Linked DNA regions of Homo sapiens: regions 1 and 3 are each linked to region 2. Evidence: fine-mapped expression QTL. A gene starts in region 2. Each other region holds a variant in brackets. All regions are shown on one strand. Distances are from middle to middle.

The links. PIP is the estimated chance that this variant, and not a neighbour inherited with it, causes the effect. A credible set is the group of variants that fine-mapping cannot tell apart.
Region 1: its variant is the best candidate, but not a certain one, in a credible set for the expression of QSOX2 in whole blood (INTERVAL, PIP 0.66).
Region 3: its variant is the best candidate, but not a certain one, in a credible set for the expression of QSOX2 in naive CD8 T cells (Schmiedel 2018, PIP 0.60).

The regions. Positions count from the first base shown.
Region 1 is chr9:136,191,025-136,197,967 of GRCh38, forward strand. LHX3 (LIM homeobox 3) reads right to left here. Exons shown (of 6, transcript NM_178138.6): 6 at 5,226-6,719. The coding sequence ends at 6,301. Among named protein-coding and RNA genes, the nearest start is that of LHX3, 11 kb to the right of the region's middle. RefSeq lists enhancers at 1-245, 246-1,191, 6,671-6,943. The variant T/C (reference allele first, on the strand shown) is at 3,948.
Region 2 is chr9:136,242,532-136,250,556 of GRCh38, forward strand. It overlaps QSOX2 (quiescin sulfhydryl oxidase 2), which reads right to left and starts at 3,281. Exons shown (of 12, transcript NM_181701.4): 1 at 2,945-3,281. The coding sequence starts at 3,272. It overlaps CCDC187 (coiled-coil domain containing 187), which reads right to left. Exons shown (of 26, transcript NM_001378188.1): 26 at 7,442-8,025. RefSeq lists silencers at 2,809-3,218, 3,249-3,518 and an enhancer at 5,316-6,170.
Region 3 is chr9:136,214,077-136,222,101 of GRCh38, forward strand. QSOX2 (quiescin sulfhydryl oxidase 2) reads right to left here. Exons shown (of 12, transcript NM_181701.4): 6 at 7,720-7,865; 7 at 4,954-5,088; 8 at 4,603-4,732; 9 at 2,524-2,646; 10 at 1,078-1,228. Among named protein-coding and RNA genes, the nearest start is that of LHX3, 13 kb to the left of the region's middle. RefSeq lists an enhancer at 1,931-2,434. The variant C/G (reference allele first, on the strand shown) is at 3,604.

The DNA.
Region 1 (6,943 bases), 52 kb before region 2:
ACAAGACTTCCCGTCTGCCTCTCCCACTGGGAGGCAGGCTCATCCTCCAGGGCGGCCTGGGAGGGAGTAATTTTAATTTTAATTGAGGTAAAGTTCACATCACGTAAAATGAACCACTTTAAAGTGTGCCCTGTGCAACCATCGCCACGGTCTAGTTCCAATCCAACCACCACCTCCCGCACTTACGCTCTGGGAGAGCGTGGGGGATGTTTGTGTGTGTACCGTGCAGTGGGTGTGTGACCTCTTGGAGAGCGATGAGCGTGTGGATGAGCAGATGTGGGTGTGCAGGTCGGAGTGGGTGTGCCCTTTACCCACCCATCCCAGGCTTTGCCTCCTCAAGCCCCATGGTAACCCTGGGAAGGAGATTGTACTTGCTCTTCACAGACTCAGAGAGGCTGAGCGGCTTGTCCACGGTCACACAGTGTGGCCAGTGAGTAGCATGGATAAGAAGGATGAGGAGCCAGTTCTCCCGAGCCAGTGCTCTGGGGCCTTTTCTGCCCAGGGCATCCCACCGTGGCTCCCCGGCTCCTGGACCCACCCAGCCCCGACGATGTGACCTGGGGGACCCCAGCCCTCCTGAGATGGCACCCCAGGATGGTGTAGGGGGAAGTGTGTGGAATTGGGTTTGGAGGGCTGTGCGGCATCTGGGGCCTGTGGCTCCCAGGCAGGGCCGCCCCCCACAGCACTGCAGCCTCTCACGCGCACGTGCAGGGCAGACTCTGCCCGGGGGCTGCAGAATCAGGAGTCTTCTCCTAGGTTTGGCCTTGGGCTCCATCCTACACCCTGAATGTGACAGCTGCGTCTTCGTCTCACACCTACTTTTGAATGCCAAGAGGGGGCTCCGCTGGCCAGGACAGAATATTTTTATGGTAAAAAATGACCGGCAGTTGCATCAGCTCCAGGAGGGTGGGAGCCGTCACCCGAGGTCGCACAGGCAGACTGATGAAAATTCTGCTTATAAAGTCACTGCTCCCCCATTAATTAGGGGGGAGGGGGCGCTCCGGAGCCACCACGCACCTCGCCCACGGCCAAAAGCTTGTCAACATTTTCCACGAAGGATGAAAATGTAAATAACTTTCAGATTATTCAATGTCACCAAGGTATGGAAAAAGGTCGCCATACTGGGTGTCATTTATCTCGTTGTGGATTTAAAGAGCTTTTTTCTATTAAATTTCTTAAAATTAATGTTTTATGTTGCTCAGAGTAATTTAAACAATTATGGGCTTAAAGAATTGATCATTACAGCCCCTGGGATTTAGCGCTGCAGGCTGATTCCCCTGAAAAACCTCTGATTTATCAGGGCTGCTACTCGGCCAGGCAAGCCCGGGGATTTGGGCCCCCACCCGCTCCTGTCCACCCTTGGGGAGGGGGGCTGGACCTGCCGGCAGATGGTGAGGAGGGAGAGGAGGGGAGGGCAGGGGGTGTCCCTGCTCTTAGGGAGAGGGAGGGGTGCCTCTGTGACTTCTAAGGCATCCCCTGATTCGGGAAGGTCCTTCGGGCTAAAAGCAGCTCTTCGTATGAATTTCATATTTAAGAGAAAATAATCCCTTTTAATGTGCTGGTTGAAATTACTTTATTATTCAGATATTTAAGTTGGATGATGTAATACAGTTGCCAGATTCAAAGTTAGCAAGCTCCTCCCCCGTCCCGCCAAGGGGACGCCACCCAGAGCCCTGTGCCACCCCCAGCCCCGCCCCCGCTGCAAGGGGGATGGGGTCCTGGGCAAGGGTCGGTCCTCTCTGGTCAGCGACCCCGCTGCCTCTCGGGTCGGGACCCCAACGAGCGGGAAAAAAAAAAAAAGACAGAACGCGTGCCGGGGAGTATGACCCCGGCCCCGGCTCCCTGCACCCCGGGCTGCGCAGAGCCCTCGCCCTCCGGGTTCCCTCTGCCAGCGACGCCAGCAGAGCCGGGCAGGTCCCATCTCGGGGTCTCCCCGCGCCCGGACGACCCCTCTCCCACTGCGGCCCCGGCCCTGCCTCACCCGCCGCCCCACCAGGGTCCGAGACCGGGAGACCCCAGCCGCGGGGGGGGGGGGACATCAGCCTTCGACCTGCCCCCGCACCTCCCGCTCCGCGGGGAGACTGGGCGCCAGGAACCCCGAATTCGGGGCTGACAACCCGCAGGCGCGCGGCTAAAGCTTCCACCGTCCGCGAGAAGGCGTCTCCACCCTGGAAGGAAGGGGGCTCGGACCCAGGGAGGATGAGGGGTCCGCCTTCTCCTTCCCCTCACCTCGCTGCAGCCCAGAGCCCGCAGACAGCCCCGCGGCCCAAGGTCTCTCTCCGCCCGAGGTCTGCAGCTCTGGCTGGGCGTCCCCCGGCCTGGCGGGGGTCCGGGTGGGGGCCGCGGCCCGAAGTCTGATTCTGGGTTCGCCCTCGCGGGTACGGAGCAGGAGCCGGAGGAGGTCGGAGCCCGCGTTTCTGTCCCTGGGGCGCGGGGAGGTCACAGGGCTCCCCCCAGGCCCGCGCGGGGCGGAACCGGGTACGGCCAGAGCGGCGCGCGCTGCGCTCCGATCGGGAACCGGAGGCCGGCGAGGTCACGCAGACGCGCTCTCCAGGGCACCGCGGGTCTCCCATCGCCGAGGCCGCCTCCGCAGGCCCCGCTCCCCTCCCCGCGGCGGCCAGGGCGGTGTCGGGGGCGGCCACGGGCTCCGGGATTATCGACGCGCCGCCAGCTGGAGCGGGCGCGGGCGGGGTCCCCGCGGGAACAGTCGGCACTTTATTAACCTGTCAGCGCCTAAAAGGTCCCGGGCGGCCTGGGGGAGGGGCCGGAGGCCGGGGCGGGGTGGGGGCGCGGCTGGGGGATTTGCGCCCCCTCCTCGGGGCTGCCCCCCGCCAGCCCGCGCTGCACCCCGGCGGCCGCGCCCCCTCCCTAAATTCCGCCTTCGACCTGGGCCCGGAGCCGCTTTCCCCGCGGGCTGCCCGTTGCCCCCGGAGAGTTCGGGGTCGTCCCTCCAGCGCCCGTCCCTGGCCGCGGGGCCGCTGGCTGGAGTCTCTGCCCTGGGGACACCGACTCCGCAGGCCGGCCCCGAACCTCGCACTTTCCCGCCGGCGCGCCTTTGCCCGCACTGGTCGCCGTCGCCACGCGCCATCCTCGCGTCCAACCCCATCTGCTTCCACGCTCGGCTCCAGTGTTGCCGCCATTCCCAGTGGCCGTCGGGGCCCTTCTCCCCTCCCGGGACCGCCCTGGTGATCCGCGCGTCTCTGCGCTTCCCAGGGGTGCTCGGTGCCTCCTTAGACACAGCGTGGCTGCCAGAGCCTGGGGGTCGAAGGCCATGCGCCACAGGGAGGGAGGGAGGGCGGGTGGGGCTTGGGAGGACCCGACAGAAACCCCGTTGACCGCCTGGTCAGCACCCCTCCTTCCCCACAGCGGGGGTTGGGGGGTGGGGGGACCCAGGCCAGGACAGGTCCTTTCCTCCTCTGGGCCTCAGTCTCCCCACAGGCAGAGGCCGCTGGGCGGAGCACAGCCAATTCTAGAAATGTTCATGGAATGAACAGGTCCAGGAGCCTGCCAGAGCCCCTGCCCGGTTTAGCCCTGCAGACCTGGGGTCTGTGGGCGCCTAGAGGTCAGCAGAGGTCAGGGTCAGGGCAGACTGGACATCAGACCTTCTCCCGGTGATGTTCCTCAGAGGTCCTTTGCCCCAGCCCCATCACTCCCAGTCCCCAGGGTTGCCCAAGCCTGCATGGCTGAGGACAGTCTCCCGCTCTTTTCTCCCAAGCTGCCCTCCCCTCTTCCCCCTCTTCCCTCCCCTTCCCCTTCTTCCCTCCTCTCTCCTCCCTCCCCACTCTTCCCTCCCCTCCCCTTCTCCATCTTCCCTCCCCTCTCCTCCCTTCCCTCCCCTTTCCTGGGCCTTAGCTTTCTCTTCTGTGAGATTGAGAGGAGAGGCCGCTGTGGGACTCAGAAGAGGATGTGCCTGACACACATCCCGAAACGATGAAAAGGACGTCCCT[T/C]AAAAGACAACTGTTCCCTTGGCCAGGTGCGGTGGCTCACACCTGTAATCCCAGCACTTTTGGAGGCCAAGGCGGGTGGATCACCTGAGGTCAGGAGTTCGAGGCTAGCCTGGCCAACATGGTGAAACCTTGTCTCTACTAAAAATACAAAACTGGGAATGGTGCTGCGCGCCTGTAATCCCAGCTACTTGGGAGGCTGAGGCAAGAGAATCGCTTGAACCCAGGAGGCGGAGGTTGTGGTGAGCGGAGATCACGCCATTGCACTCCAGCCTGGGCAACAAGAGCAAAACTCCATTTAAAAAAAAACCACACAACTGGTCCCAACCAGTTCCCCCCAAAAGATGGCTGGTCCTGGAGAGACTTGGAAGTCTGCAGCTCAGAGCAGCTTCCCTTGGCCACATTCTGGAGGGGCCTCCGCACCCTTACTGGGGGAACTGAGGCCAGTGCAAAGGTCCCCATGAAAGGCATGGGGACTCCTCCACCTTCCCTCCCCGTCCACTGAGAAATAGGGAGCCCAGGCTCCAAGGGGCCTCCTCCCTCCAGCCCCCACTCTGCTCCAGGGAGACCCCCTCAGAGGAAGAGACCCTCAGGGAGGAGGCCCAGCCCTCCTTCCTGCAGGAGGGAAGGCCGAGGTGGAAGGGCCAACCCTGCCTGCTTCTACCACTGCCCCTATAGGAGCACTTACCTGGGGGTGGGGGTGGGGCGCATACAACTTCTTTCTGCCCTCTGAGGGGACTGTCATCACTGTCTTCTCTTTACGGCGGCGGCGGGGTTGGGGGGGTTGGGGGGTGGGGACGGGGAAGCAGGGCTCAGAGGGTTCCAGCCCCCAGCCCAGGGTCACACAGCAAGTTAGAAGAGCCAGGATTGGAATCCAAGCTGGAGAGACTTCCATGACCATGAGCCTGGTCACCCTACCAGCCTATGTCCTGGGGTTGGTGCCAGCTGCAAGCTGTGAATGGCACACACGGCCCACCTCCCACCCCCATCATGCTCTCTGGACATCCCAACCCCTGCCTCTCCCAGGGACAGGGTGTGGAGACCGCAACCCCTCCCCTCCATCAGGAAGGGATGGGCTGTTCCCCCCACCTCCTTCCAGTGCTCATGAGCATGGCCAAGATCCAGGGATAAAGAGAGCCCAAATTCATACTAGGTGCCAGCCCAAGCAACGAACTAGGGGGACTCAGGGCCCCTCCAGGGCTGCCTCTCAACATTCACAGAATGTTCCCCACACCCAACACTCCCCAACCCCCGCAGCCTCAAAAAAACGCGGGCCTTCCATTGACTGTAACTGACAAATTTATTGAAGTCTTGGAAAGAGCTGATCACCCGAGAATAAATAAAAGACACAGAACATTCACAGAACCAATAGGTAGCTCGAGATTCAGGTTTGCGGGAGTGACTTTGACTTACACACAGGCCAGCCTTTGTGTCTGGGGCACGCACAGCTGCGGGCATCTCCCAGAAACTTCTTCCCAAAGGATCTGATGGAGGAGGCAGGGCAGGCTCAGAGGAGCCCCACCCTTCTCCAGCGGGGAGACTTCCCAATCTGGGGCTGGCAGAGCCGGCTCCGGCAGGGAGGGCAGGCTGTTTGGCAACAGACATCTGTGGGTGCAGCCTGGACACCAAGGGCCTGGGGTGGGGTGAGGAGGAGACCCTGAGGGGCTTAGAGAATTGAGCTTGGAGAGAAGGGGCGCCAGGCATTTTTGCCTCCTCCACAGGATACTCGAGAACAGAATGATCTAGAGACCTGGGGATTGGGGAAAGCTTCTCCCGGGGAAGGTGGGGCTGGAGGCAGAGAGGCCCCCTGTGGTCTGGGGAGAGGAGGGGGCCTCTCCCGGAGGACACAGGTGTGTCCCCGCCTCTGCAGCCTCTTGCCTCGACAGGCAAGGCCAATCTCCGACCTAAAGAGGGAGCCTCGGGGTGACGGCTCCAAGACACATGGAGCCTGGGAAGTGAAAGCACAATTATGATGATTTCTCAGTTTTAGAGATGAAAGCGTTTTTCCAGCCCTCGGGCTATGCTGGGCTGGGCTGGGCCTCAGCAAGGTGACATTTCATGTCTAGAAATAGCAGCAAGTGCTCAGTTAATTGGTCAATAAAGGGGAGAAATTTGCTTACAAAAAAGGCTGGCTTGCTGGGAGGCCACCTGGCGGGCCAGCCCTGTGTCAGAGGAGGGGCCAGGTGGGTCCCTCAGCCCCCAGAGAGGGAGCTGTGCGGTCGGCAGTGGGAGGCTCCGAAGGCACCAGCCCTCCCTTGACGCCCTGGCCCCACTTCCTCGGAAACCCCAGCAGCCCCGAGCCGCCCACCCAGGGGCAGCTCCCTCGTGTGAGGTGCAGGGTGGAGCCGGGCCTGGGTCAGAACTGAGCGTGGTCTACCTCATCCAGCCAGGAGGCGGGGCTGGCAGGGAAGTCGGGGTAACCCCCGCTGCTCCCCGTGGATAGGTCAGAACTGGGTCCGTTCCCTGCCAGCACCCTCATGGGTGGGGGCCCGCCGGGGGCTCCCGAGGGCACAAGGCCCAAGCTGGTGTCTGGGTACACCAGGCTGGAGAGGAGGGGCTGGGGGCCAGGGAGGCTCTGCGGGGCGGCGGGGGATGGGGGGACACCGTAGGGGCTGCCGGGACGCAGCTCTCGGTACTGCTCTGGGCCTGCCAGGCCTCCATGCTCCAGGGAGAAGTTGCCCAGGGCTCCCGAGGGCCGGCCCAAGGCCTGGGTGGGTTCCCCCAAGCTCCCGTAGAGGCCATTGGCCGGGCCCATTTCCGCCAAGGAAGGCTCATCTGCAACAGAAGCAGAGGCTCAGTCAGCGCCTGCCCTCCACCTGCGGCCCCTCAGAGTCCCATCCTGCAGGCGGAGGCACCCCTGGGTCGGAGAAAGAGTGGCTGCCCCACACCACATGACAGGTCATAACAGGCCCCTTCTACTGTTGGAGCATGGCTGCCCCTGCCCCTCCACTGCCCTCACCCCTGAGTCAGCCCAGGTGTCTCAGGCCTGGTGGGATCAG
Region 2 (8,025 bases):
TCAGGTCAACAGGGACATAAGAAAACATGAGAATGTTGACAACGGGAATGCCTGCATGCAGCCAGACCCCTGCACTGCCACGGGCAATGGGCGCCCTATCCCTGTGGGACAGCTCCACGCAGGGATGACAGACAGGGAGCCAGGCGCCAAGCAGACAGTTCTGAGCTGGCAGGTCTGGGCTGGGGCTGTGGAGAAGCAGGCATTTCTAACAAGGCCCTAAGTGGCCCTACTTTGAGAGTCCCAGCCTTAGAACAGCTCCGGGGACTCCTCAGTGCCAAGGGCCTTTCATCCCTTTCTACCCGGACTCTACCTCCCACAAGCCTCATGGGCACAGCTTGGCTCTCAGGACTGTAAACCAAAAATAAAATCCTGAGTCCCCTAACTGACTGAATTGAACCCCCTCTTGGCCAAGGAGACCCCAGGGCAACCTGAGGAAAGAAATTCCAGGCCCTGACGGCAAGGGAGGTCAGACACGCCTGGTTACATCACCTCCCTTTGGAGTTTAGGCAGAGCTGACCAGCGTGATGAAACAGAGATCACAGACAGACAGCACAGCCTCAGCAGCAACGACACCAAACTCCAGCCTGACTCGGGTACAGCACCACATGACAAATAGCACACCCTGCAGGAAATCAAAATATTTCACCCCCAAATACATTTATTTCCCTGACATATTTGAAATGGTCCTGCAAAGCTGTCTTTTGTGAGGGAAATTTGCATCTGTAGAGAATCTCCCTCCCTTTCTAGGTCTTTCCTGGATCTAGGAGACATTTAACGAGTCTGACAGCATTCAGGTCTGAAAAGAGACATTTACCCTCTATTCTCCCCAAGGCTGCTGCCTGTGAGGCTTCATCTACTTAACCTTGGCCTCCACAGCCCCTTTAGCTTAACTCAAGCATTTCTCTTTGCTGACTTCAAGTCTTTAGACAAAGCTTAACTCTTTCAATCAATTGCCAGTCAGAATCCACCTATGATCTGTAAACCTACCCCTTCCTATACCTTACATGTACTGATTTATGTCTCTCTGCCTATAACTTCTGTCTCCCTAAAATGTATAAAATCAAATTAACGTGACTGCCTAGAGCACACTTTCTTAGGACCTCTTGACACTGTTCCCCTGGCCATGGCCACTACACTTATTGGCTCAGAACAAACCTCTTTCAGTATTTTATAGTTTGGCTTTTTAGCCAACAGGACCCTCTGCCTGGGCTCCCTGAAGCCCTCTCCCTGCTGCCTGGTCAGGTCACCGCTGTCTTTCACTTTCAGCCATATCCTCCTCCAGTCTCAGTCTCAGGCACAAGCCTGTTCTTCCTGTCGTGACTGGGAAGACAGTCAGCCTCACTAAAGGAGGCTTACTGAGTTGAGTTCATCACACCACTGGGTATGGACGTTACTGTGTGGCTCTCAGGAGGGGCCTTCCTTCTGAGCTCCAGGGACAGTTCTCAAGGCTGCCTATGTGCTGCTTCGGTTACAGAATTTGCAATATTTGAATCTGGTACGATCTTTAGACTTCAGCGACTCAACTGAAAAAAAAAAATCAAAACCAAAACCCACAAAAAAAGTGACCAAGTCCTGCCAGGGCCACCTGCATTTTAATGAACATATCTGTTTCTGCCACTGAATAACACACAAGAACTGAAGGGTTCCCTACGTGATTGAATTACTTGTTTGTTTTCCTAAAAGCAGTGTCTAAAAACCCCACTGAACAGTTTTTCTGTCCATCTCTTCCAGTCTCTGACCTCAGTTCTGAGTCAGGTCAACAGGGACATAAGAAAACATGAGATCAAAGAGGAGGAATCCATTAGAATCAAAAGGCCCCAGCTCTCTAAGAGGAGAATGCATTTTAAAGATAACCATTTACAGTAACATACAAAAGCCCTACTTAGACTTGAAAAAAAGTTTCTTTACAAATCTGTTTGCGATGAGAAAAATACAGCAGGATTGGGTGTAAGGCATAAAAACAAAGGTGCAGGAAGAAAGAGTAGCAATTTGTTACAGATCTTGCCCACTGAAACATGTAATTTGAGGTTAGCACAACACAGGAAGTCCTGCCAAACCTCACTGGGTCGGGAGGACCTCCTACTTCAGTGATTTAAATACCATTTTAAGGGAAGGGTGTTGTGAATGCCCCCTCCCACGCCAACTCTAACCTGTAGAGCAGGCGAGTAACTTCGTGACTGGTTAACAACGTGCGACCAGATGAAAGCACTAAACAATAAAGTGCGGAACACTACCAGCAGTTTGGTGAAAGATTTCTCAAAGGCTGTGCATCTGTGATCAAGGAGCCCACCAATGAAATTCTTTGTAGAGTTAAAAAAATTGCTTTATAGGTTGTTTTGGGGTATTATAGAGAAGTCTCCAGAGTATTTGGACTTCTAAGTTGTGGGTTCACTTTGAGCACCCACTATATGGCCAGCGATCCGAACCAGAAAGTTAATGATGAAGGTTCAAAGGGAATGGGGTGGCTACGAGTGTGGAATAGGAATGAGGGATCCTCAGAGAACAGGAATTCTGGGCACTGGGGATGGGGTGTGTGGACGCTAGGAAACAGGTAGGGTAGGAGGCCTGGAAGGTCAATGAAGTTCTTGGGGCTCAAAACATAGGTATTTTGAGAGCTGGGATACGGGAGGGCTTCCCTATCCCCAAGCGTGCGGTGAGGGCTGCGGGAGAATGGTTTCATTTTGACTTCAGACAGCCCAACTCGTCAGGATCTAACGGGGATTAACTGGGAGAGACATGGGGAGCAGCTGGCTTAGTCTCCCGCCCCTGGAAAGGCCAGGGTTGGTCCGAGTCGGGTGCCTCTGTGGGGCAGGGACTGGCTCTGCGGTAAGGAAAGAAATACGGGGGAGGGGCCCCGGGACCCGCCTTCTGGGGCGGTCGCAAGGGGTCCCGGAAGGCCGCGGTCCCGGGGGTCGGGGGGTCCCCGCGCGGGGGCGCGCCTCACCTCGCACATCCCCAGCCAGGGCCCGCCAAGTGGGCGCGTAGCCGATGCAGTGGCCACACCACGACGAGTAGAACTGCACGAGCCACGCGGCCGAGCTGTTGGCGGTGGCCCCGCGCACGCTGCCGCTGTCCAGCACCCACACGGCGTCCTCGCCCGCGCGGTACAGCCGCGCCGCACCGCCCGCGCCCGGCCCCACCGCCGCCGCCGCTAGCAGCACTAGCAGCCGCGGCAGCCGTGCGGCCCGCGGCGGGGGCGAGCGCCGGGCTCTCAGCGCAGGTCCCGCTCCGATTCCCGGGCTGCGCGCCACCGCCGCCCCGGCCGCCGCCATGTTGGAAGTGCCGCCGGCGCGCTGAACTTTCACCCTGGCAACCACCGTCACGTGCGCCGGCGCGCCCGGCCCCGCCCCCGCGCGCCCAGTTCTGTTCCGCCCCGCCCCCTCACGTCTGACCCCGCCCTCTCTCCCCGCCCCCGCCCCCGCCCATGCGTGGCAGCCCCGCCCCCAAGAGTCTGATGACGCCATCTCCCCGCCCAGGCGCGGCAGGCTCCGCCCAGGCCCCGCCCCACCCCGCCGCGCGTTCCCCAAACCCCTTCCCTGAACAGGGCCAGGTGGCCACATTTAGCAAATGGAAGTGCACGACGCCAGGTTCAACGTGAATTTCAGACAAACAGTGAGTCGGTTTTTCAGCCTAGGTCTGTGCCATGCCTGAAATACAAATTTAACAAGACATTCTTAGACGTAAAAAACTATTCCGGGGTTCTTTTACTTGGCAACCCCACCTGGGGCTTCAGAGGGTCTGCAAGCCAGCCTCGACTTTTTAATATGATATTGGAACGCTTAGAAAATGCAGCAAAACATCCACTCAAAGTCAGATGTGTTGTGTGCTACCTTTTAGGATGTTCCAGTCGAATGCAGCTTCACGGTTTGGAAATGAAATCATATGACTTTTTTGCTTCATTGAACAGGATACCTGATTTTTTTTTTTGTTCCTATTCCTAATTTTTACACATGTCAAGATTTTCTCTGAACTGTGTGACCAAAACAAAACAAGGGAGTGGGCGAGCCTGGGCAACATAGCGAGAGCCCATCTCTTAAAAAAAAGAAAAAAGCCGGGCATGGTGGTGCACACCTGTAGTCCCAGCTACTTGAGGGGCTAAGGTGGAGGATGGCTTGAGCCTGGGAGCTTGAGGCTGCAGTGAGCCGTGACTCTGCCACTGCACTCCAGCCTGGATGACAGAGCGAGACCTTGTCTCAAAATAAATAGATAACTGTATTGTGGGGTTCTGTGTAAGATTTTGTTTAAAAGGTTTTGCTGCTAACAATGGTTAACCCCAGATGAGAGGATTCTCCCCAGAGGGCCCCTGGCCAAGGCGTCTGCTCCCTTTTCCTCACGTCCTGCGTCTCCCTGTTCATGTTTCCTTCCATCACCCACGTTTCCTGGCTTCTGCTCTGTGCCAAGCCCTGGAGACAAATCAAGAACAAAACCGAGCCCCCAGTGTCCCTGGCCTGCATTTGGGCAGACCCCAAACAAACCAACGCGTAAAGCAGCCACCGCGTGCTATGAAAAGCAATGAAGCCGGACACGGAAGCAGGTGCCAGCAGGGCTGCCGTACAGAGGAGGGTGGGGAGGTCTTTGAGAAGGTGACCCGAATGGAGAAGGAGGTGAGGGAGGAGGCACACATGCAAAGGCCCTGGGGCAGAAGGGTGCTGAGCACGCTGGAGGAACAGCAAGGAGCCGGACCTGGTGGGAGCGGAGCAAGCTGGGGGAAGCGTGGGAGGGAAGAAAAGCTGAGAGCCCGAGCGAGACCCAGGGGGCCTCACAACCTGGGCCGCAGACTCAGACTTTGATGCTGAATGGGGGGGTGGCCACGGAAGGATCGGTGCAAGGATGCAGCTCTGCCCTTCTAGTTGCAGAGTAGGAGGGGCAGGAGGGGAAGCAGGGGACCTGGGAGGGGCCGCCGCCTCCTTCCACAAGCTGGAGGGACTCCGGGGAGGGGTGAGAGGCAGTGCTGGTGGAGGGGTCGGCTGAGTCTGGGTGGAGGCAGAGGGTGTCACATTCGCAGAGTTTGGGCCAAAGCAACCAGAGGAATGGGGTTGCTTACGGCTGAGACTAAATCCTGCAGCGGCGAGATGGGAGAGCTATGCTGGGGAGGATGCCATGAGTTTGCTTTGGACCTGTTACATCTGAGCAGCCTTTTCAACCTCTAAGGGAGGTGTCAGGTCAGGGTTTAGAAGTGGGAGTCGAGTCTGGAGCTCAGCGCTTGAGGCTGCTTGAGGTCCCCCGGGGAGGCTGTGGGACAGAGGGGAGGGCCACACACTGAGCCCCAGGCCTCCAGAAGGAGCAGCAGCGAGGTGGCAGGGGAACAAGGAGTGGAGGAAAGGAGGCTGATCTGGCTGAGACAGAGGACGTCATGAGCCCAACTGGAGGGGCACATTCGGAACATCGGGGCAACACCTCACCCCAAACCTGCTCGGTGAAACGGAGCCACCCCTGGGACCAAGCTTAGCCCAGCACTTAGAGGCCACACCCCAAAACAACCAGAGTTTCTCCCATCTAAGGCAGGGCGGGGGAGGGGAAGGGGTTAGGATTGAATCTCGGAGTCTACGTAAGAGCTGTCTGTGCTGAGCCAGATCCTGCCCAAAGCCTGCGTGAAATCTGCCCCCCACCCCACCTGCAGGAGAGGCATCGCACGTCGCTGTGGCAAAGGCCAGGTGACTGCAGGCGCGGTTAGCGTGCGTGCCGCGGAGCGAGAAAACACGCGGCCAGTGGCCATTTTCAGATGCCCTGACAGAGACAGCTCTGGCTTCAAAGAGATCAAAATGCGGGGAGATCACATCTCAGACATGATGAGATAAGGCACTGTGCAGGCTGAGGCAGCAGCATCTTGGACCTAATCTGCTGTGTTGGATCCTGATGAGCCTGATTCCGGGAAGGCCTCCAAGATTTCCAGTTGATCTGTTGTTCCCTGTGTAGAGCAGGTACTTGCCGTAAATCCCACCCTTAGGGCACAAAGCCTTGATGCTGTCTGCTTCAGGTTTCTGCACGTTCCTTCTAAACCAGCCTCCCCTATGGCAGATAAGCCCTGGGCCTGGGGGTGGTGGCGGGATCCCGTCTGTCGGTGCCTCCAGAGACACAGATGTGGCTTCCATTTGTAAGTCCCTACTAAATGTTTCTTCCTGAGAAACTGGACTTGTCAGCCTCTTTCTTCTGCCTCTCAGCCTCCTCCATCTTTGGGGCAGGTTTGCAGAGGCCTACCCATCGTGGAACAGGTATTGATATTCCTGTTTTACAGAGGGAGAAACTGAGGCTCAGAGGGCTGACTACTGTGTGAGGTGAAGGGCACATGGCATGTATGTGACAGAGAGGAGGGCCTCAGGCCCACGTGCCTCCCAGAACCCAGGAGGGCCCACTCTGATGCTTGCATTGGAGACAAAGACAGAACCCAGCTCTGAGCCGCCTCCCTTTCCACATGGGGAGAGCAGAGATGAGGCCCAATGGATTTCAATGGCCCCGGCTCCAGGACTTGCCCTGCTGTCCACGTCTCCCCCTTTAGCAGGAGTTTGGCATGGAGGGCTCAGCTGCTTAACGACCACCACCCATTTTGGGAAAACTTCTGAGGAAAAATTCTGCACACCTGTGCCAGCCCCTGAGCACTGGCGACGTGCCCGGGACAGTGCCTGAGGGAACAATTCTTCATGTCCTCACTAGGACACCATGAGGAGGTGGGTGGCCACCCTCCAGGGACTGTGGACATGGAGGCACGTCTGGGGGCAGGGGCTCCTGCCAGACCCCTAGGGAGAGGTGGAGCAGGGCCCAGGCAGCCTCAGAGCCCGAGCTGGCTCCCAGCACCAGTGTGGTTGGTGCTGTATCGGCTACAGCCTGATGGACATGGTGAGTGGCGGGCAGGAGAAGGGCGGCTGGGAGCCCCGGGGCAGGGCCAGGGCCAGGGGGTGTGTGTGATCCCATCCTCCGCTCCCAGCTCTGATGCTGCCATGCGGGGACAGGGCACCATGGGATGGCTGTGGGACCTGCCAACACTCTTCCAGGACCCCAAAGCTGCCTGGGGAGCTGGGAAAAGGACGGCTTGTGAGCCTGGCTTTGCTGGGCATGAACGGGCCAAGCTCGACCCTGGGGACAGAGAAAATGACCCGCAGGGACCCTGCTCCGCCTGGGCAGTGAGTGAGCTCTCCCAGCGCCCTGGGTGCCTGGAGGCTTTGCTTCCCAGGAAAGTGTGCGGCCGCCACCTTTCATAAAGGGCCCCCGGCCTTCATGCGTGTTTTATGAGGGTGGCCGTGATGGCCACGCAGGGCAGGGAATCAAAGGGACTCGTAAAGTTTGTCTGATGATTTGGGACTCGGAGCACTGCGGACACGTTCATGGGCATTTTATGCAGGAGGGAACCGTTAAGCAGGGAAGCTGAAAGAGACAGATCACGGGAAAATTAAATGTAGGGTTTAACTGAGAAATAATCATTTTCTATGAAAGATAATGACTTCTCTGGAGGCTGGTATCAAGATTTATTGGCCCAAGCGGTGACGACAGATCAGAGCCCAGGCAAATACAGCAGGAGACCTTGAAGGGGAGGAACCTTGGATTACCATCTTGCCCGGTCAATATATCTGAATGCCAAAGCCCTCCGCTCTGTATATGTCCTGTTGGGAGATTAAATGCGTTTACACCTCTGCTGAAGCGGCTTTTTCTCCGGTGCTCAGAGTAACCTGACGGCTCCGGCCCCCTCCAGGGCCGCTGTCCTTGGAAGCCCTGGCCCGGGTTTTCCTTCGTTCCTCACGACCAGCCCCCTTCAAGGGCACCCTACCACCTGCCAGCGACGCGAGGCACCTGCTGGGCTCCCAGGGAAAGTCACGCTGGTTCCAGCTGTGACTGCAGCCGCCACCGCATTGCGCCGCACGTCAGCACCAACCACGTGGCAGCGAGCCTGGGAGCCATCAGATTCGCTGCAAATCTGCGGGGCTTCAGTGGTGGAGATTTATCGTCATGCCAGATGCGTGTGTGTGAGATACATAATTCCTCTCACACGGCCTCATAAATCCAAAAGGGTCAGCAATAAATGGAAAAAAATAA
Region 3 (8,025 bases), 28 kb before region 2:
AGTCAAGACTCCACTTCGGCTTTGAAGTAAACATTAATGAACCTGAATTACTGCTTCAACTGGGAAGCACACACACAACAAAATTCAGGGGGGATAAAAAATCCAATACATACTTTAGTGTTCTGTGAAGGACAGAAAATTTGTTTTTATCTATTTCCTAGTAATTGAAAATTATTAAATCCAACTTCGAAGTTTTATAGGTTTTAACCCCTTGTGGTGGGCAGCCTCTGCGACGGTCCCCACAGATCACACCACCTATACTCACGCCTCCTGTAATGTCCTCCCCTTGCGAGTGGCCTGGGCCTGGGGACTGACTAGTAAGCAGAATCTGACAGAGGTGATGGAATATCATCCTCGGATAGGCACCCTCTCACTGGCTTGCTGATGAGGCTTGCTGCCATGATGTGAGCCGCCCGATGGAGAGGCCCTGAGCGTGGCCTGCAGTCAACAGCCAGCATGGAGCTCAGGGCCTTAGGCAAGCCACGTGCAAGGAGGCAGGCCCTGCTCTCTGCCCCATGAGGGTGCTGGGAAGCCACTCTCCCCAGGTGGGCCTTGGGTGACCCCCCAGGCCCAGCTGACACTCCGACTGCAGCCTGACCAATCCTGAAGAAGAGGACCCAGATGAGGCCATGCCCGGCCCTCAGAAACCATGAGCTCATAACCGTGCGTGGTTCCCGTGGTTCTGGCTGCTAAATTTTGGGGTGATTTGTTATACAACAGCTGATAATGAGAACACCTCTCCAAACAGATTTCACTTATTCTGTCTTTTTAAAGCAAAAAACAGGGAGTTTACACTGCAGGGAAACTCCCAGCCAGCACTCTTTCTTCTTTATGGTTTATTTCCTGCACGTTAGCCATGCACATCCTTGCGAGTTCTGACAAGGGGAACTCGTGCCCCCGCAGCCACAGCCCTGGGTGAGCTGACCGTGTGAGAGGAGTCTGAAGTGCCATTCCCCTGCCTCAGTGGCCTGGCGACATGCTGCCTCCCATACAGCAGTACATGCCTTTGCACACACCGGCTGGGTTAACTTGTTAGGCAGACCATCGGCCCCTCTGGCCTGTATGGGCACAGCTTACCTGTGCCAACCAGTGCATCTGGGTGGGTCGAGGCTTCAACAGTCAAAGTGTGGAACAGTTTCCAGAGAGAACACGGGTAACCCCTCAACTCAGATCGGCTTCCTTGACATCCAACCCACTTTATGTGATTAGTAAGGAATATTCCAGAAATCTGAAAAACAAACAAACAAAAAAACCCCAAAGAATAAAAGATAATTGTTGAAATTAAAAACAGTCGACAGCTGCCTTCTTGACTGGGGGGGGTGGATAATGGGGGTGTGGTTTACTGAAGCTGTATCAACTGTACACATAAGATCTGTGCCTCCTACCATATGCAAATTTAAATTCAATAAAACAAAAGAGAGGAAATGGTCTCCTTTACTAAAGGAGCTCTCAAGCCAATCTCTGAAGAGACAGTTCTTCTGTATCTTGATAAACCAGTAATATTAAGCATAAAATGTATCCACCTTTTCTTTTAAATTAGAATTAGTTGTAAGGACAGTATTAAGAGAAAAGGCAACTAACAACAGAAAAAAGCTCAACTGTCAAATAATTCTTGGCCAGAACAAACAAGGTGTGTTCACTTTGAAAAAGCAATAGGGTGGCCATCAGAGTGGGTGACTGCTGGACTGGGAGGGCTGAGAGCCCCAGGCAGATTCCGCTGGGTTTGGTTTCGTGTCTCATCAACCTTTTCCTCCCTAAGGACTCCTGAGCCCAGGACGTGCTCTCGAGGGAGATGTCACACGTCGCAGTCACGTGAGAGTGCTCCCATGACCTCGAGCTCGGAGTAGAGTCAAGGTGGAAGACAGACTCAGGCAAGAAGCCCGGCACCGTCTGCTTCTCAGCTGCAGCCAGCAAATGACAAAGCTGGCAAAATCACGGCACGACAAGTGCACCTTACAGGATTCCCAGAAGATCTGCTGTGTGCACTGACCACGCGGGCGTCGGACAAGCAGCACGCTGGGTTTACTGCCCGCGAGTAAACACTCTGGGGGCCACAGAGAAGCTGCTGATCTGGACTAAGGAGGGAATGGCAGGACGGAGTGCCAGGACCTCTTGGGGTGCTGGTCCCCTGAGCAAAGACTGGCACCTGCTGGCACCTGGTCTTGGGGAAAGCTCTGGAAAGGCTGCCACACTTACTGAATACATCAGTTTTCGTCAGATTGGCTTACTAAAAATTTAAAAAGCCCAACTACTACGTTGCTTGAGAAAACCCCATTTTGTCCAAAGGACAGGTGGTCACAGTGCACTTTTGGTGAGCTGTCCTTAAACTGAAGTCCCAGCATGACGCTGCCAAGGCAGACAGGAGGCCATGGCCATGATGCTGTCGTGGAGACAGTAAGTCACTGCTCCCCTTCCTCACAGCGGAGCCCGGGCCCCGAGCAGGGAGATGCACCAGCTAAGGGCAAGGGAAGGAAGGCGAGGGAAGGAGGGTGCAGCGTGGCTGGCGAGGGTTCTGGGGCTCACCCGCATCTTGTTGTTGACCAGGTCAAGCACGGCGTTGTAGGGGATCCTGTCCAGGGGAAGGCTGGCCAGCCACTCCTGCAGCATCTCCAACAGCTTCTTGACTGGCGGCCGTCCAGGGAACAGCTGCATGAGGAAGGAGCCACCTGAGAGCTACAGACCCAAACCCGGGCCCGCCCCCACCGCGGGGGGCACCGCACCTCCAAAGAGAAGCACTCCATCCGCAGAGGGGCTGAACCTAGGATGGGGCCTCTCATAACTCGGGTTTCTCTGATGGGAGGCAGGAAACCCAAGGGGCCATGGGGTGGGCATCTAGCCTGCGCCTCTCCCCAGGACAGCCTGTGCCCACGGCCATGCCTTTCTCCAGCCCGTGCCTGCAGCTCACCCACCTGCGCCCACGGCCTCGCTCCGGCCAGGTGACAGGCAAGGTCACGGTGTGTGACTCATCATGGAGCTGGCGGGGGCTTGCTGATTTATTCTGCCTTCCTCACGAGGAGCTGTGCTGACCCCGCCTGCCCGCCCGCTGGGCTTCCCCTCTGCCGTCACTGACTGTATGAAGGGCGCGCGGCAGTGCACATGCGCCGGCAGCCGGGGCTAACTGCCTATGGGCTTGTGTGGGCCGTGAGGCTGGCCGACATCAACACAGCTTGGGGAGGCGTCTGGCTGAGAAGATCCCAGGGCTCTGTCTTTTTAGGAGAAACTCTGATCAGCTGCTGCACCACAAACTGTGCAAAACATAGGCTGCCGAAAGAGCTCCGAAAACCCGAGCTGAAATCTCACGGGTGGCAATGCCAGACCAGAAACACCAGCCACCAAAAGAGTTCCTCAAACCCGAGCTGAAGCTCACAGGTGGCGATGCCAGACCAGAAACGCCGGCATCTTCAGCTCAGTCCAATATATTTTCTCCCGTGCAGGTTAAAAAGTACCATGATTAATTTACCAGAATCAAATTTATTTTAGACATCCAAGTAAACTTCAGAAAAATATTAAGAATAACTTATTAATACCCTGGCCTCAGGAGTTGCCCAGAGCACAAGTGTAAAAGCTCCAAGCCTAACTAGACTAAGGGGAAGACGGAGAAGC[C/G]GGGAGAGGAGAGCAGGTCTGCCTAGCGACAGCTGTGCGACTCCAGCGAATTAGCTGGCCGGCGGCCACCACCACTAAGAGCCACACTGTCCTCCACTAATATGATGGACAGATTAGCAGGACACTTTCTTAAAGGAAATGAGGCCAGCTAGAGATTTCTGAACTCTGGATGGCACCGTGGGGGAAAAAGCTGCCTGGGCAATGTTCATGCATTCATCTGAGGCACCTCCAGTCCTTCAAGATTTCCTGTACTTTTCACAAATCACTTTGTAAGTAAACTCTATCCAAAGTGCTCACTATAAATTATTCTATCATGCATCTTATTTTTGGCAAGATAAATATTTTAAGCCTAAGCCTTCTTGTCATTTAGACAGTAACAAGCAACCGAGCTCATGGAGTTACACCTGGCCACCTCCCTGGCTGGTCCTCTTCAGCCTGACCCTGGGCACGGCCAGGCCTGAGCTCTGTTGGGTGGCATCTCTGCCCGCTCCTGGCGACCCCCTCAGTGGTCTCAGACACCACATCTGTGCTGGTGATGGTGCTGAGCGTGAAGCTCCCAGGACCCCTCCCTGAACCTGGCTGGTGGGGCAGATGCACACCCCACCTGGATCTGCACAGCCCTTGCCTCTCCCTCTCTCTCTCCCCCCAGCCCCCGTGCAGCGCTCCTCTGAGAGCCAGCTGAGGTGTGTGTGGGCCTCCGCTCCCTCCTCCATCTACTCTCCAGGCAGCCAGAGCTGGGCTTTTCCAGCAGGTGCTCGGCTCACACCCCCGCCCCTCTCTACACCCACCGCCCCAGCCCCAGTGCTGGGAACAGCAGTGGACGCAGGAGGCACTCGGGAAATGGGTGGAATGAGTTGGGGCGTGGGCCTGGGCGACAAAGCAAGGTGGAGAGCACCTCAGCGGAGCTGGCGGAGCCCCCGCAGTGTCCGACGCCCCCCAGGGCCCACTCTGTGCAGAGCCAAATTCCCACATGCAGCCCAGACCAGCACCGTCCCAAACCTTGGCCAAGACAGTCACAAAGTCCTTGAGCGTCTTCAGCTCTGCTCCGGCCAGGGACTTGTGGGCTGCCAGCTCCACCCGCAGGAGGTAGTGTAGCCCTGACTCCAGGTCCACCGTGTACAGCTTCGACCTAGGACGGGATATGGCAGCGTCAGGGAATGCCCAACCTTTCCCTCCACAGCAAGTCTCCCTGTCCTGGCTCCTCCCCACGGACTCCCAGGGCCCCTGGGAGGGCTCCTGAGCGGCCCTCACTGGCTGGGGTGGGTTTCTGAGTAAACCCGCCCTGCAAGCACGCAGCCTTCGGTCTACACGCACTGTCTCCGGGGGCTTCAGTTCAAGAGGAACACTTGCTTGTCAAATTCTCTCCAAACCACGATTTCTGAATTTTCTTCTTTGTGTGGCTTTTCAGGCAAGGGAAGCGATTTTTTCCTCACATCCGGCAATGACTTCAAATAAGACGAAAAGAAGGCCCGCAGAGGCTTCACGCTGTGAGAGAGGGGAGGGCAAAGGTGAGAAGAGCCTCCTTTATAAAATCCTAAAGTAGGAGCCGTGGCATTCAGGACAGCTCTGGGCCACCCCTTTCATCCTTTGGGCATTTATTGGGGCATGGGAGTCAGTGGGAACAGCTGACACCCCGCCTGGGCTCCGGCTGCGCTTCCACCTGGGGGATAAGAGGAGACACACCAAATCCACAGATTTACAACCAGTTCCAGTTGTAATAAGTACTATGACTCATTTATGTTTGTGGGGACCTTAAGGCGTTTTGTAAAGCTGGGTTGAGCATCTGCCAAGATGAGCTTTATTCTGACTGCGATTTCCAACACGCCTAAGAGCCTTCACCGACGCGCCCACAATCTGCCAGCCCTGAGTGAGGCATCTGGAAGTCGGGGCCTGGGGTGGACGTCAGCCCCTCCCTGATGTCAGGCCCCTGAGCTCCCTGCGTGCCCACCCTGTGTGGACAGGGTGGAGCTGAGCCCCCTGTGTGCCCACGCTGTGTGGACAGGGTGGAGCTGCCTTCTGAGGACACCCTCAATGCCATTATTGAGCACTTCAGTGTGACGTGGAGCTTGTTTCCAAAGACAGAATGTAGCAGTGCTATTTGCAAAAACATTAAAATATCTATAAAAATATTAACATTATTTGACACTAAGAAGTTGTCTAGATGATACTTTTAACACTAAACAAACATCTGGGAGTGGTTCAGGCCGCTCTGCCAAGTGCAGTGCTGTGCCCCAGGCCTGGAATGGGCCACCTCGTTGGCAGAGCCAGGCCCCCAAGCACTCAGAGCATCTCCCAACAAGCTCAATGGCCTCTGTGGTTACCCTGAATTCCAGCTTTATCTTTTGTATTTTCACTCATTTATCTATTTTTGAGACAGGATCTTTCTCTGTTGCCCAGGCTGGAGTGCAGTGGTGCAATTTCAGCTCACTGCAGCCTCAACCTCCTGGGCTCAAATGATCCTCCCACCTCAGCCCCTTGAGTAGATGTAGCCACAGACATACTCCACCACGCCCGGCTAATGTTTTATTTGTCATAGGCTGGAGTCTCACTATCAACCTGGGCTGGTCTCAGACTCCTGGGCTCAAGTAATCCTCTCATCTCAGCCTCTGAAAGTGCTGGGATTACAGGTGTGAGCCTGGCCTCTTTTTCAAAAGGAAAGAAAAATACTTAAGAAACTGCGGTGTTCTGGGCTTCTGTAAGGCGCCCTCTATGCCCCAGTCGATCTTTGAGGAGGCTGAACTGGAAGCCCCAAGAGACAGGAAACACGTCCTATCTTCTCACTGCTGTGTCCCTGCACCTCGGAGCCCGGCGTGGTGAGTCACCAAGAGCCGCAGAGTCAACCGTGGCTAAACCAGCACATGCTGGAAGCCTGCAGGTGCTGCAACTTCAGGCCAGGGGAAGGGGCCACCCAGTGTAGGGCAGGCTAGCCTCACGCTGTCCTTCTCCTCACGCTGTCCTTCTCCCCAAGGTGAGGAGGAGCGGGGCCCCTCCAGCCTCAGGACGTTACTTAACTTTCTCAACCATTTTTCATTTTCTTTCTTTTTTTTTTGAGATGGAGTCTGACTCTGTCGCCCAGGCTGGAGTGCGGTGACAGGATCTCAGCTCATTGCAGCCTTGACCTTTGAGGCTCAAGTGATCCTCCCACCTCAGCCTCCTGAGTAGCTGGGACTACAGTGGCACACCACCAGACCTGGCTAGTCTTTTTTTTAGTATAGATGGGGTCTTACTATGTTGCCCAGGCTGGTCTGGAACTCCTAGACTCAAATGATTCACCTGTGCCCAGCCTCATTTTTCTCACTGTTCTTTTTCTAACCTGATTCAAGTTGTTTACTTTTTCATTGGGCTTATCCGAGGGGCACACAGGCACTCCACGCAGAGGCAAAGGGCTTATCCTCATGAGGGGCACACAGGCACTCCACACAGAGGCAAAGGGCTTATCCTCATGAGGGGCACACAGGCACTCCACGCAGGGGCGAAGGGCTTATCCTCATGAGGGGCACACGGGCACCCCACGCAGGGGCAAAGGGCTTATCCTCATGAGGGGCACACAGGCACCCCACGCAGGGGCGAAGGGCTTATCCTCATGAGGGGCACACGGGCACCCCACGCAGAGGCAAAGGGCTTGCCAAGGTTCTGCAGTTCTTAGAGAAAGAGCAGAACGTGAGGGGCAGGGCCTGGTGCCCACCCCTACTTCTCATTCTGCAGAGGTGGGCACGTGGGCTTGTCTGCCAGCCCCAGACACAGACCCAAACTGCATCCCAAGAGTCCACCCAGAGCAGGGTTTTAGGAGCATCGGCTGCTCCCAAAGCCCCGGCCCAGCAGCCCTCATGCATGTGCTGGTTTAGCCACGGTTTCCTCTGCGACTCTTGGTAAGTCACCACGCCAGGCTCCTCCTAGGTGCGGGGACACAGCAGTGAGAAAACAGAAATCCACGAAAACACAGCACAGATCAGCAATACCCACGGGCTGAGAGCCAGGGCCCAAATCTGCCCAGGGAAGCGAGGCGGAGGGGCCAGGGCTCCCCCGATCTCACACCAGACTTGCACTGTCTACTCGGAGCCTCTGTCCGGTAACTCCGAGCGGCACGGAGTTCCCAGACCCCACCCGGGCACTCACACGTTAATCAATCCATGCGACCCATTTGGGTAGATCAGGTAACACGAAGGGACTGAAGAAACACCAAGTTTCTCCAGAAATGCTTTGTCCCCGTCCAGTGCTCGGGTCACCACGATGCTTTCATACGGGATCAGGTCTAAGATCACCTGGGGGATGAGAACACAATGACACTTCCACAGGGGCTGGCAGTTTCTCAGAAAACACGACGTGCAGACACATGGCCTTGCAGGGAACCTTTCACAAAAGGGCATGAAGTCTGTCCCCCTGCAGGCAAGACCCTCACTCAAATCTTCACTCTCATTGCAC